2 linked regions of the Homo sapiens genome follow. Each later gene encodes a partner of the first gene's protein in a complex. Each region holds a gene or a part of one and is shown on either strand. Other genes may lie near its edges.

Region 1 (6,846 bases):
GAGTGCAAAAATTACACCACTAAAGAAACACGGAGGCTGGGCGTGGTGGCTCACGCCTGTAATCCCAGCACTTTGGGAGGCCAAGGCGGGTGGATCACCTGAGGTCAGGAGTTCAAGACCAGCCTGACCAACATGATGAAACCCGATCTCTACTAAAAATACAAAAATTGGATGGGTGTGGTGGCAGGCGCCTGTAATCCCAGCTACTTGGGAGGCTGAGGCAGGAGAACTGCTTGAATCTGGGAGGTGGAAGTTGCAGTGAGCCGAGATCACGCCACTGCACTCCAACCTGGTGACAGAGTGAGACTCCAGCTAAAAAAAAAAAAAAAAAAAAAAGAAAGAAATAAAGAAAAAGAAAGAAAGAAAGAAATGCTGAAAGAAATGGGATTCTTTGGCCCAAAAAAGGCAAAGGTAAGAAAAGAACTAATAGCAAGGGTGCCAAACACTGTATTTACTGATAGGTCAAAGTCTTACTGATGACAATAATGACAGTCTGAACTAATATTCCACAAAATATGTATCTAATGAGTTAAATGTGATTCGTGAGACTGCTATTCCTGTCTTAGGCCATAAACTAGACCCTTGAAAGAGAATCACTTGTCGAATATTGTACTATAAGTCTTCAACAGATGTATTTAGGTATGTTCCTTTTTCATTAGGTATGTTCTATTTACTGACATTAACATAAGTTACTAGGAAAGGTGTGCTACTAGTGTGCTGAGGTTCAGCAATATTCAAGTAACTAAAAGGTAATATAAGTTTCATAACCACACACCTTTGCACAGCACCAAATGGGGGGAAATGGGCTTAAATTACAGAATATATGTTACATTCAAGAATGTTCCAAATATGAGATTTTAATTACTCTAACAGAGCACTGGGGGTGAAGGAATTTTCTTCCCAGGACACTTCAATTAGAATGCTCGTCTGGAACTATCTGTATGCTTTCTTAGACCAAGGAGAATGGGTCTGAAACACTCTTCCATGGCTGTGATTCTCTAACTAACCCTCCCAGTTTTCAAGAGTAAGAGAGCTTGCAGCCATTGCTCACTTTTGTTTTGTCTTGAAGGTGGTCAATGTACACAGGACTACAGTTTAAGATAAACTTTAATATCCCAAATTGAAAACTGATTATAACTTTAATTACGAGTTCTTAAAATTACAGAGATAAGGATACATTTCGATTAAGCAGACGAAGTGGGGAAAAGAGGCATAGCTTCCTACTTCTGTGTCCCTTTCAATGAGGCTAGGTACCTCATTATTTCAAAATGCCCAACACTTGAACACTGTAAGTACTCAACAAATGCTTTGCGAAGAAAATATAGTATATTTCATATTAGTTTTGTAACTTTTAAAATACAGAATCGTTGAACACAGAATGTTGAGTCAATTTCAACGTCGCAATTAGTAATGCGAATTTTGAAACTTGTTCTAAATACAATTTTAATCAATCTGAGTTTTTCAGCCTTGAAATTCTAAGGTCCGTATTTCCCAAAGAATATCCTTCCCATAGTGCTAAGCACACACTAAACTGACTCACTAAACTTTCTCCACTCCTACATCACCTATACAGGATTTTAAAATCCGGAGTACACAAACTTTCAAGCCACTTCTACAATCTTGTATTAACCTTAGCAGGACAAACTTTTCGCCAAGACTCTTAACACTTTTTATCCAAAAACCTGTAGTAGTGAAACAAAGAAAACACAACCCCCTCCTCCTTTTCTAAACCATATGGCAATAAATTAAAGTTAACTTATTTCTTACCAGCTCAAAGCCTATACATCGACCCTAAACATTTGTCTCTTTGTGCCCTGGGACTGGGCTTAGAGCTGTCTGCTTATTTGCAACTGTACTCCAATCGTGTTTTAAAATGGCAAAACAAGGTCCAAAACGACCCCCGACCATGAACAGACCTCACCATCGTCATTTTCCAAAACCTGGTCTGGTAGGCAGCACATGCCGGCGAGGGCACCAGGGCCGCGGGGAGCGAGCCCTGCTCCGCCTGGGTGACTGAGCAGGGAGTTTGCTTGCTGCGGCGGGGTCGGATCCACCCCGGGAACTTGGTTACCCGAGCCCAGGGACGCGCCGAGGCCTAGCCGCGAGGCCGGGGCGGGCTCCAGGCGGCGAGGGCTTCCCGTCCCTTGGCCGCAGAGCCTTCCCGCCAGCCCCGCGGTCGCCCGCAGGCGGGGACACTCGCCGTCGTCTCCCGGCGACCGGACGCGCCTGCCGGGTCCCGGGCCGGCTCTTTTGCCTCCTGCTGCCGCCCGCGGCCCGGCTCTGCGACCACACCGGGCTCTTCCGGGGCGGCGGGAGCGCTAGGCCGCGCTGGGGCCCGCGGCTCCTGAACCGGCCGGGCGGGCCTTGGCGTCCGGTATCAGTCCCGAAGGCCGAGCTCCCGCCGGTAACGGGCCCCGCCGCCTCCCCTCCCCCTCCGCCCCATGACAGTGCAAACCCTCCGGCCGCCCGGGCCGCCCCGCCTCCAGCACCAGGCCCAGCTAAGGGCCGCGGCCGTGGCGGCAGCGGCGCCGCGGCTCTCCGCCCTCGCTCGCTCGCTCCCGGGTCCAGCGCCTCGGGCCCGGCTCGGGCTCGGCCAAAGTCTCCGCCGCTTCCCGGCCGCCCTCCGCCGCGCCCGGCCCGGGCGGGGTAGGCCGAGGCCCGGGAGGTGCGGGTGGGGGCGGGGGCTCCTCTCACCTTCATGTCGGGACATCCTAGTTCAGACGGTGGCGGCGCGGCCCCTCCCGGGCTCCGGCTGCAGTGTCCCCCGCGGGGTCCCGGCGCTGCCCGCGCCGGCCGGCCGACTCCCACTCGACTCCCGGGCTCGGCCGCGGGGGCGGGGTGGGCAGGGGAGCGCTCCCGCGGCGGCGGCGGCGGCGGCGGCGGGGAGGCGGCGCGGGGCGGGAATGGGGCCGGGCCTGGTCGGGGCTGAGCTCCTCCAGGAGGCGGGTCCGACGCCGCAGCTCCGCCGGCGCCCGCCGTGACTCCGGTCACTCTCGGGCCTGCCGGCTCCCGGCAGCGGCGCGGCGCTCCGCAAATCCCGCTCCTCCCCTCCCCCGGCCCACCCCCCGCCCCTCTCCCCCGGCTCCCGGCCGCCGCCTCCTCCTCCTCCTCTTCCTCCTCCTCCGCCTCCTTCCGCCGCCCGCACGCCAGCCCCGCCTCTCGCTGCCCTCGCCGGGCCCAGCCGCCCGGAGGCCCCGCGGCCGGCGGTCGCGACGGGGGCGACGCGGCGACGGCGGCTCGGGGCGCGGCGCTTGCCCGCGCTAGCCAGCAGGCCGCGATCGGGCGCCCGTGCCCAGCCTCGGCCTGGCCGCCGCCGCCGCCGCCGCGCCGCGCGTAGGGAGGAAGAGGAAATGCCCGGCGCCGGCTCCCGCTGCTCACCGGCGCGGCCCGAGGGGCGCCCGCCCGCCACGCCGCCCCTAGCCCCGCCTGGGGCGGGCCTAGGCCGGGCTATAGGGGCCAGGGCCTTGGGCTGCGCCGGCCGCGGGAGGTGGGTGCTTCTCGGCGGCGAGCTGCGACTCGGAGAGACTCCTGTCCGCAGGTGCATGGCTTCCGGGCGGGCCTCGGGCAGCGAGCTCCAGCCCCACTGAGAGGCCGCGGACCGCCTGGGGACTTGTGTTTGTGTGTATTTTAAGCCAACAGCCCAGAAAGGGAAGGCGACTGGCCCCCGGTCTTCGCCAGTGTTTCCCGGCCGGGTTACTGGTGGTCAGGAGGGAAGCCAGGAGGCTGCCGGGCTCCGAGGCCGATTCCTTGCGAACCATCTCCGTTAAAGACTCCGCGCCGGGCAGCCCGGGAGTCCGGCGGTACCCGCGCAAACTTTGTCCCAGCGCCTTGGCTCACCGTGAATGCCCTGCCTTGAAAATTTGGAGTTTTTTGTTTCCTGAAAGTGGTCTGCTTTTCCGATTTTATCTGTGTTTTCCATTTTTACCTTCTTATTGTCAATTTGTTTTCAGGCATTATTAATTCAACAAATCTTTGTACTGCCCCTTACCACGTGTCGATGGTTCCGTGGTTTGGTGGAAATAGATCGCGCTTTGAAGTCAAGACGGATCGGCCATGGAATTTTGGCTCTGAGATCCTCTGTGTAACCGTGGATGAGCTACAAGGCCTGCTGAGCCTCCATTTGTCTGGTTTTTGTGGTTGTTTTAATTTATCTTTTTCCATTTGAAGTTGTGGGTTTTGCATAAAATTGAACTGTTACCAGGCTAAGTCAACTGAAATTGGAATCTGGGGTACTGCTTGCTTTGAGGTTACTCTTATACTGTCCACCATTTGCTGGCTGTGTGATCTCTAAACCTCTCTGTGCCCTGACTTTTCTATCTTTAAAATGGACGTAACAACAGAGGTTTAATAATAAGAGGTTTGGAGGTTAAGTGCTAAAATGCATATAAAATACCTAGCACAGGACACAGTAAAAAGATTGTTACCGTATTTCATTGAATCTGGTTTTAAGACACTTCCTGATTTCAAAGAAACTAAAAGCTCATCTTGAAGTCCAGGAAGTAGGTTTTGGGTCACTCAGAACTCCCAAGGGACTGTATTTGGTAGTAACTAGTGATAAACAAACTGGAGTTTAAATGAGGACTTTGTCACCAGAGATATTTTTATTGCCTGTATGGAGCTCCTGCACAAATTTATTCCATTTCTCTTGTAGAAAGAGATCCAACCTGGCCGTAAATGGGGTGTGGTGGAGTAGAAAGAAGGGTATTAAGTAAAGCTCTGTGTCGATGCCTTTCTGAGCATTTTACGGTGTTGGCATATGTGATCCTGGGTATCAGGAGCCTCAATTTCTTGGGCTGTAAAAATGGGGAGAACAACGCTGATCCCATTGTCTCCTGATGGGTAAGTGATGTCTATAAATAAATTGTATAGAGATTAAGGCATTATCAGTGCTGTAGTCTGATAAAATGGTGGAGCAGATAGGAAAGCCTACAACAGTACTGAACTGCAGGAGGGACTAAGAGTAAATATAGAGATTTCATTTGCTTGGTTTTGCAGAGGGTTAGCTAACTAAACAGATAACTTTGTTTTCGACAGTTACTTCATTTTTTTCAGTCAGGCAAGAGTAAGGAGAGAGTAACTAAACCATTTTTTTTCCTCTTTAAATAAGAGTAAGCAGAAATATTATGGTTATTTGGGGTTTTCATGACCTTCATTCACTTAGCGGTCAGGCTGTTCAATTTAAAACAACCTTTTGCTTGCTGCCCTGCCATATGGGAAATTTCATTTCCAAAAAAAGGATTAATTTCCAGCCTGGGCGAAACCCTATCTCTACGGAAAATATAAAAATTAGCGGCCAGGAGCAGTGGCTCATACCTGTAATCCCAGCACTTTGGGAGGCCGAGGCAGGTGGATCACGAGGTCAGGAGTTCAAGATCAGCCTGGCCAAGATGGTGAAACCCCATCTCTACTAAAAATACAAAAATTAGCCTGATGTGGTGGCACGCGCCTGTAATCCCAGCTACTTGGGAGGCTGAGGCAGAGAACTGCTTGAACCTGGGAGCATTCCAGCCTGGATGACAGAGTGAGACTCCGTCTCAAAAAAAAAAAAAAAATTAGCTGGGCGTGGTGGCATCCGCCTTTGGTCCCAAATACTCAGGAGGCTGAGGTGGGAGGATTGCTTGAGCCCAGGAGGTCGAGTCTGCAGTGAGCCGTGATTGTACCACCACATCCTAGTCTGAGTGACAGTGTGACACTCTGTCTCAAAAAAGAAAAGAAGATCAAGAAGGATTAATTTAAATCCTTATACCAAATTGTCTACCAAATGATTTTTGTTCCACTCCAGAAATGTTTTCCTCCAGTCCCTTCCTCTCTCTGCACCCTCCTGAGTTCTCCTTTCTTCTGTGGACAACTGTAACTAATGCGTGTTTTTGCTAGGCTGACCCTTCTTTCATACTATGGCCCAATTATGTTTTTTCAAATAAGCTAATGGATGTAAGCACTGGTGAAATCTGAATAAGGTCTGTAGTCTACTTGATAGTATTGTACCAATGTCAGTTTCCTGGCTTTTGATATTTTTCCATAGCTTTGTAAGATGTTCCCATTTGAGAAAGTGTACCTGGGCCCTCTTTGCAACTACCTATGGGTAAATGATTATTTCAAAGTAAAAAATTAAAGTATAGGGACAGAAATTAGATCAATGGTTACTGGCAACTGGAGCTGGGGAAGGGTGGACTGATCACACTTTTTGAGATGATGAGAATATTCTCTAACTTGATTGTGGTATTTACATTACTGGATGACTCTGTGAATCTGTCAAAACTCATAGAACTATACACCTAAAAGGGTGGTTTTTTTTTTTTTTTTTTTTTTTAGATGAAGTCTCGCTCTTGTCCCCCAGGCTGGAGTGCAATGGTGTGATCTCGGCTCATTGCAACCTCCGCCTCCCGGATTCAAGCGATTCTCCTGCCTCAGCCTCCCAAGTAGCTGGGATTACAGGTGCATACCACCACGCCCGGCTAATTTTTTGTATTTTAAGTAGAGGCGGGGTTTCACCATGTTGGCCAGGCTGGTCTCGAACTCCTGACCTCAAGTGATCTACCCGCCTCGGCCACCCAAAGTGCTGGGATTACAGGCGTGAGCCTCCGCACCCAGCCAAAGGGTGGTTTTTACTTCTATATAAATTATACTTCAGTAAACCTGAATTAAGATAAGGAAAGCAAGCTCTTGGCCGGGTGCAGTGGCTCACGCCTGTAACCCCAGCACTTTGGGAGGCGGAGATGGGCGGATCACGAGGTCAAGAGATCGAGAGCATCCTGGCTAAATGGTGAAACCCTGTCTCTACTAAAAATACAAAAAAATTAGCCAGGCGTGGTGGTGGGCATCTGTAGTCCCAGCTACTTGGGAGGC
Region 2 (7,470 bases), on another chromosome or scaffold:
GACATGTTTGGTTGATTTCAACATAGGTTTTCCAGTTATACTTTTAATATTGTGATCTTTCAAAAATCAATCTTAAAATCCTTTGAAACCTGTAGCACGGTCATTTAATGAAAGTAAATAGAATAAAGAAAACTCCTTATGCTATTTTAACAAAGGATTACAAGGAAGTGACAACATCTGCTCACTTCAAGTTTTCTTTTCTGGGCCCATGGCTTACAGCTTGCTCTGCGATCTAACTAGGCTAAGTTCATCATGTGAAAAATGGCACCTCTAGTGGCAGAAGGCCCCTTGGCACCAGCTGCAGTGGCGGCAGGCTCTAAGACAGAAGAGCGCCACCTACTGCACCATGGACACCGCAGTCCCCCTTTCCACTCAACAAGGGACCCAGCCCACTGCCACTGCCATCACAGCCAGGATAAGGATCTCATCCAGGGGCAGGCTTTCAGCGCACCTTGCGCACTGCTCCAGGCCCTCGAAATCTCCAAACTGGCGTTACATAATGGCATTGGGTTGGATTAACAGGCTTTTATATCCATTTTATGAGAAATAATTAAGTAGAAAAAATAAAGATACAGCAACTGGGTACGCCACCAACTTCATTTCCATGTAACAAATGCTTTCCAATCCTTTAAATTAGGCAGTTATTTGTTAAAAGCCTACCATTACAATGGCTAATGCCCTGGGTCAAACTATCCTATGATTCAGAAGCCAGGAAAAAATGGTACCATCTTACAAATGAAGTGTTACAAAACTGCAAAAATTAAGTACACAGAAAACTACACAATAATTATCAAACTATATATACTCCTCTCTTTTCTGGCAAAGAGTATCTACTAAATTTGCTGGAGAGTATTAACCCTACCTACCTTAAGAATGACATAAGAACTGTTCTTAATAAACACACTTCGTTGGAGGCAGTAATGGCCACGAAGGTAATTCACCTGCATTATTTGGTCTCCACTGAACCTGTGCCTCCAGCCGAGGGAACTCGAGACCTCAAGGAGAGCTAACGTGGATTTCTCTTTTAAAGAAGGATGCCTAAGAAGCCAATTACAAAATAAGTCCTAATAGAAAGCTGATGAAGTTTATACTCTTAAGTGAAAACTTTAACAGTAGGAATGGTGTTCCAATATATTGATTCTGGGTGAAAATTTGTTTTTACAAATTATAAACGGATCTTTCTTTCTACCTCAATCACTAAAAATTGGCTTTCTTTAAATGACGGAGACACGATGATTTACGTAACGCCAAGGCAACATCTGTCTTGTACAACAGGAAGCGCTGCCACACCTCGCAAGAGAAACTGTCACCTTATGGGGAGAACAGTCCCACCTCGCTACAGAACTCTCTTGTTAGAGGGGTTACCAGGAGCATCCAACTTTCTCGACAACGAAAACCTCCTCCCCCAAATGGCGCTAGCCCTGGGGGCAAAGGTGTACCAGAACCCTGCGGGGAACCATCTCCCCACCCGCCAAACCAGAAACGCAGTCGGTGATGTCAGCCCTGCACGCCGAGGAGGAAGGGGCTGTGGAAAACACACCCAGCGAGGCGCACAGTCGCATCTGGCAATCTAGAGGCTGCAGAGAAAGCAGAAACGTGGAGGGCATCTCTCTGCGGACTGGAAGTGGCGCGGGGCGAGGGACCGGGCAGGGCGCGTGCCCGGGGGCAGGCGTGGGGGGGAAGGCGGCCCCCGAGCGGGCGTCTGGACGCCGCCCCTCCTCGGCCAGGAGGGTCACCACCCCCGGCCCCCGCGCACCAGGGCTGAGGCCAAGGCCACCCGCACCTCCCACCCGCTTCTGCTCCCCCAGGCGACGAGCCCGCGGCGCCGCCGCCTCCTCCCGGAGCAGAAACTTTGCGTCTCTAATGGAAACCAAGCCGCGCGCCAGTTCCCTCCTCCCCCGCCGCCCCCCCCCCCCGCCCCAATTAGCGCGAGCCCAGCGCCTCCCGCGGGAAGTGCCTCCTGGTGCACCGAGGCTCACGCCCGCCCGCACTGCTGCACTGGGTGGGGGGCCGCAGGGTGCGAAAGCGGCAGGAACAAGCCACGGCCACACCGCAGGGCCCCGCCCGGGCGCAGGGCGGCCCGGCCGCCGCTTCCGCCCTCTCCGCCCCCAACCCCTCGCCTTCCTGCCCCCAACCCCACCCTTCCCCGGCTCCTTCCTTCCCAGCCCACGCCCGCGCCGCGCCCCCCGGGAAGAAGGAGGGGAGAGCGACCGAGGGAGGGCGCCCAGCAGGGCCGGCCAAAGTGGGGAGGTGGCGGGCGCTGACTGCGCCCCTCAACACCCGGCCGGAACAATGTGCGCCACCGGCCAGCTCCAGCCCATTCATTCTCCACTGCCCGCCCGACCTGCCACCTTCGCGCCGGCGGAGAAGCGGGGTGGGGAGGGGCGGGCCGGGGGGGGGGGTCTAGTGCCCGGCCCCGCCCGGCTCCCAGGCCGAAACGCTGCGCTGCAGGCAGCCCGGGTGCGGCGCTAGTGGATGCAGTGGGTGCGGGGCTGGGCGGGGGGCAGGGGGATTGGATGCAGAAACCCCCGCTGCAGTTGCGGCCGGAGCCCCTGCCCGTGGACGGCCTACGACCAAGTCCAGCTCCAAGGGGAACCAATAAATGAAGCTCCCTGGCAGAGGTCGCCGAGATGCAAATCCAAAATGCAACCTCCTTTAAGCGCAGCTGCTGCGTAACACTCAGAAAAGAAAAACCTCCAAGAACCAAAAACAAACAAAAAACAAACAAAACAACTAGAAATCTGGGAAGAAATCTCGGGCAGCTGCTACGCCGGCATTTGCCACTCCCGACCTACCATGGTGCGAGCGAAGGGAGGAAGAGCAGAGGGAGCGAGGGTGGCTGCACCAGCGCGGGGGCTGCGACGGCGGGGGTACCTCCGATGCCGCTGCTGCTGCTGCTGCTGCTAAGGCGCGCTGTGCGCTATGCCGCCGCCGCCGCCTGCGCCGCCGCCTGACTACGAGTAACGGCACGGCGTCCACGACACTCCCAGCACCACTGCCGGAGCGCGAGTCTGCGCCCCGCGATATATATATGGTGCGCCGTATCCCTCCGCCGCGGCGGAGCCGCCTCGCGCAGAGCGGCGCTGCGGCAGCCGGGCCTTGCCCGCCTGGTCCCGCCCCCGGGTTCGCCAGGCCTCCCGCCGCCCCCTGCGCGCCAGTCGCGGCGGCCCTACGCTGGGTCGGGGAAGCGTTCTAGGCTGGGCGCGCGGTCTCGGGTCAGGTGTGGCGGGGAGTCCTCAGGAGACGCCCACCCTGGGCGGGGGCGAAGACAGAGCGCCTGCTTAGTCCAACCTGGGGGCGGCCCAGAGCTTCGGAAGCCGTTCACTCCGCTACCTACCCCAGCCTCACCCCACCTGGGTGACCCTCCCACCTCAACATCTCCAACCGCTCCACTAGGGCTGCCGGCTCCCGCGTGCCCCTCGTCCTTGGGTCTGCAGCGGCCACTTCCAGTTTGGGGTGCTGCAGGAGGTCCTGAGAGTAGGGGGTCCGCGGGGAGGTGGAGGCAGATTGGCCACACTCCTTCAGCTGCCGAGGAGAGGGGTCTGCAGAGGACGAGGTAGTTGTCCTCCTGGAAGAAATTGGTCCTCTTCGGATTTTGGAGCAGTATCCGAGTCAAATTATTTATGCTCAGTTGCTAAATCTGTGTCATGCTGCGATGTTTAATCAGTCTTTAATGTTTTTACGTTTCCACTGAATATTTTTTAGGATGCCTGAATATTTCTCCCCTACTATTTTGTTCTTTTTCCTGGCGCCCGTCTTACTAAAATTAGTGTACCTGTGCAGCTTCTACAGACCTTAAACCCAGGCTTTAAATTTTTCGTAATTTTCCTGATCCTGAGAAGGGTCAGAGTCTTTATTCATAAATCCATAGAAACAAGGGAAAAAATAGATGCTTCAAATCCTCTGCATTACAAGTGGAACACACAGCCAATTGCCTCTCTTATGGAGCTAGATTGTATTTTAAACTACAGTTTTGATTATATTCCTTTTAAAAGACTATTTAAATCTTTAAATATACTAGTGTTTTCCATTTTTTATTATATTCCTTTTAAAATAATATTTAAATCTTTAAGTTTACTAGTGTTTTCCATTTTTCTGTAAAGTAGAGAAAGAACAATTTCAGCCAGTAATGTGAACCCCAGGACTTGTAAAAATCTAGACAAAATGCTGCAGTTTCTTTTCTTGCCAAGGCAGAACACAGAATTTGATCTTCTGTTTTACAGGGCCCGGGCAACAGTTGGAGGTTATCATTTGCTTACTGTTTCACAGAATATGGCAAAGTGTGTGATTAACATGCTGTGCTAGAAAGGGCTTTGCTTGCTTGTGTTTGTTTCTGCTTTCAACAAAGTCTGCAGGAATATGTTTTTTAAAAAAGGAAAAATGTACAGGCACATTGCAAATGCCACAGGACTTCTTGGGATAACCTTAGACAAGACGTCAGCATCTGTGGAGCTGTTCCTACTGATGTTCCTTCTGGAATGCCGCAGAAAGAGTGAACCTGCTGTTTAATTTAAAGAGAGGCTGCAGCAGCAAGCCAGGGGATGCTGCCTTCCCTCTGCAGATTAGAAAGACACTATTCACTTCACAAACCTGATCCTAATCCCTGCAAAAAAATAATAATAATACTCCTGGGCTCATAGGGGAAAACCTGAGTAGGAATAAAGCGTGCATACTAATGCGAGAGTTGGAGATAAGGAAATAGAAGAAAAGGGACTAATACAAATTAATTTTAAAGAATATGCAATAATCCAGTCAGTTACAAGCCTAAATGGCCAAACTCCTTATTAAAACTGCATCTTGGCCGGGCGCGGTGGCTCACACCTGTAATCCCAGCACTTGGGGAGGCCGAAGCAGGCGGATCACAAGGTCAGGAGATCGAGACCATCCTGGCCAACATAGTGAAACCTTGTCTCTACTAAAAATACAAAAATTAGCTGGGTGTGGTGGCGCGTGCCTGTAATCTCAGCTACTTTCAGTAGGCTGAGGCAGGAGAATCCCTTGAACCAGGGCATCGGAGGTTGCAGTGAGCCAAGATAGCGCCATCGCATTCCAGCCTGGTGACAGAGCGAGACTCCATCCAATAATAATAATAATACTAAAACTGCTTCTTTCCTAAGGGTATTGGTATTCTTTCTCTGGGGCTTTTCATATAGTAGTTAGTGAAATACATTTTTTCTTTTTTTTTTGAGACAGAGCCTCACTCTGTTGCCCAGGCTGGAGTGCAGTGGTGCAATCTCAGCTCACTGCAACCTTCGCCTTGTGGGTTCAAGCGATTCTCCTGCCTCAGCCCCCTGAGTAGCTGGGATTACAGGTACAGGTGCCTGCCACCACGCCTGGCTAATTTTTGTATTTTTAGTAGAGATGGGGTTTCACCATGTTGGCCAGGCTGGTCTCGAACTCCTGACTTCAAGTGATCCACCTGCCTCGGCCTCCCAAAGTGCTGGGATTACAGGTGTGAGCCACCGCTCCCAGCCAGTGAAATACATTTTAAAACATGATATGCATTGTATAAGTAGGGGGAAATAATGGCCTAGAAATGTGTTTAATTATTAAGGATCTACTCGTTTCTGATAGTCTTCCATTCCTTGTGATTATTTTGGTTAAGTTGCTACAATCTATGGTTTTGAAAGCCAAGCATTCTCTAAAATAATATTTTTCCTCTGTCATTAACCTTATTTCACCTAAATATAACATTTTGAAACTTTTTATGACTTTACTTGCTAAAAACTGTACATTTCAGAATCCTTTTACTTAGTATAGTAAAATTTATTTTCCTGATTCTTCATATTTTACAAACTAGAGTTCTATTTTGGTAATTCTTTAATGTATCAAAGCACATCTTTGCTTTCAAGTTCATCGGGTTTATAATGAGGTCATGCTTGCACAGTTTTATGGACATGCTTTTCACAGTTTGACACTCTGAAATATAAGAAGGTCAAGTGACTTGCCCAGGATCTTACTGTGAGTCAGGGATGGGGCATAAAATAGAGCTTGAGTCCTTGCTCAGGGGCTCTAATTTAGATAATATATTCGTGGTCTTGATATCCGAACATTTTAAAGGCCCAATGTTAGGGGTTTGTCTGTTTCATAAAGCAGATTCTTCTGACTGCCTATTTAGAAATCACTGGGTTTTCATTATCAAATAGACTGCTTTAAGTGAATACACGTCCTAATTTATGAAGAGATCAGCAATCAGGAGAATAAACCGCATTATTGTAATATCATAATTTACTGAGAACCAAAAACCTATGGAACATTTCATATTTAAAGGAAATTGTTCTATAGGAAGTTATTTAAATAAGATAAAAGTAAATGGAAGAAAAGTAAAAACGATGCAGCCTCAAGCCAGGAATCTCATGTTTAAGTATCATTTCCGTCACTAACCAAATCACTCTAACCCTCTGAATCTGACAGAAAGGACACAGATGTAACAAGAGTTTTGTACTTGATGTAGAAATTCCTTCTAGCTGTGAAACCCTGTGTCTGAGGTTATATGATTATAACATATACATATATAACCTCTGTCATATATATGTATACACACATATACATATATTGAAGATGGAGAAATGGAGAATGCAAATGGAGAAATGGAAATAGTTTAAAAATAACAATTACTTGCTCGGCATGGTGGCTGACACCTGTAATCCCAGCACCTTGGGAGGCTGAGGCATGTGGATCATGAGGTCAGGAGTTCAAGACCAGCCTGGCCAACATAGTGAAACCCTGTCTCTACTAAAAATACAAAAAATAAGCTGGGCGTGGTGGCAGGCACCTGTAATCCCAGCTATTCAGAAGACTAAGGCAGGAGAATCGCTTGAACCTGGGAGGCAGATGTTGCAGTCAGCAGAGATCGCACCACTGCACTCCAGCCTGGGCAACAGTACAAGACTCTGTCTCAAAAAATAAAAATAAAAAATAATTACTCAGCATTGACTATGGCCAGGCCTTGTGCTAAATGTATTATTTCATCCTCCTACCCATCCTGTGAAACAGGTATCATTATTCTTACAAAGGAACTGAGGCACTGAACGAGTCAGTGACTTGCCTAATTTAAGTGGAACCCAAAAATCTAGCTGAGAGCCCAAGCACTTAAGCATTACATTATAACTATCTCCTGCAATGTAGTAGAATTTATTTTTATTTTAATTTGGGGTAGGAGGCAGAAGTGGCAAAGATTAAGATGAAAATTTGGTTTATAAAGAGATACTTCTTACCCAATAATTTAAAATACGATCATAGGAATGTAGTAATGGCTCTATTTTTACATAAGGAATATGGAGTGTTTGGGGAAGAAAACCTAAAGCAAAACATTTAATTTGTGATGCTTTCTAGCTGGAGGACACTTCTCATTTTGCCTCTGAGGTCTAGAGAGGTCAAGAGGCTTGCTCACTGTCAAACATCCAATTGTGTGTGTGAGAGAGAGGTAGAGACACATATGGTTGGTTGGTTGGTTGGTTTGAGAGTCAG

What was found.
Region 2: KCMF1 (region 1) and CALM1 share a complex: the UniProt entries of both Homo sapiens proteins name them as parts of the SIFI complex.

What each region holds. Positions count from the first base shown.
Region 1 is NC_000002.12:84,967,316-84,974,161, reverse strand, and holds the start of KCMF1 (E3 ubiquitin-protein ligase KCMF1), read right to left. Parts: upstream 3,002-6,846; 5' UTR 2,711-3,001; coding exon 2,695-2,710; intron 2,312-2,694; exon of another isoform or gene 1,962-2,311; coding exon of another isoform or gene 1,922-1,961; intron 1-1,921. UniProt on the Homo sapiens protein: E3 ubiquitin-protein ligase which accepts ubiquitin from an E2 ubiquitin-conjugating enzyme and then transfers it to targeted substrates, promoting their degradation by the proteasome.
Region 2 is NC_000014.9:90,392,559-90,400,028, reverse strand, and holds the start of CALM1 (calmodulin-1), read right to left. Parts: upstream 3,001-7,470; 5' UTR 2,799-3,000; coding exon 2,796-2,798; intron 1,863-2,795; exon of another isoform or gene 948-1,862; coding exon of another isoform or gene 942-947; intron 1-941. UniProt on the Homo sapiens protein: Calmodulin acts as part of a calcium signal transduction pathway by mediating the control of a large number of enzymes, ion channels, aquaporins and other proteins through calcium-binding. Calcium-binding is required for the activation of calmodulin.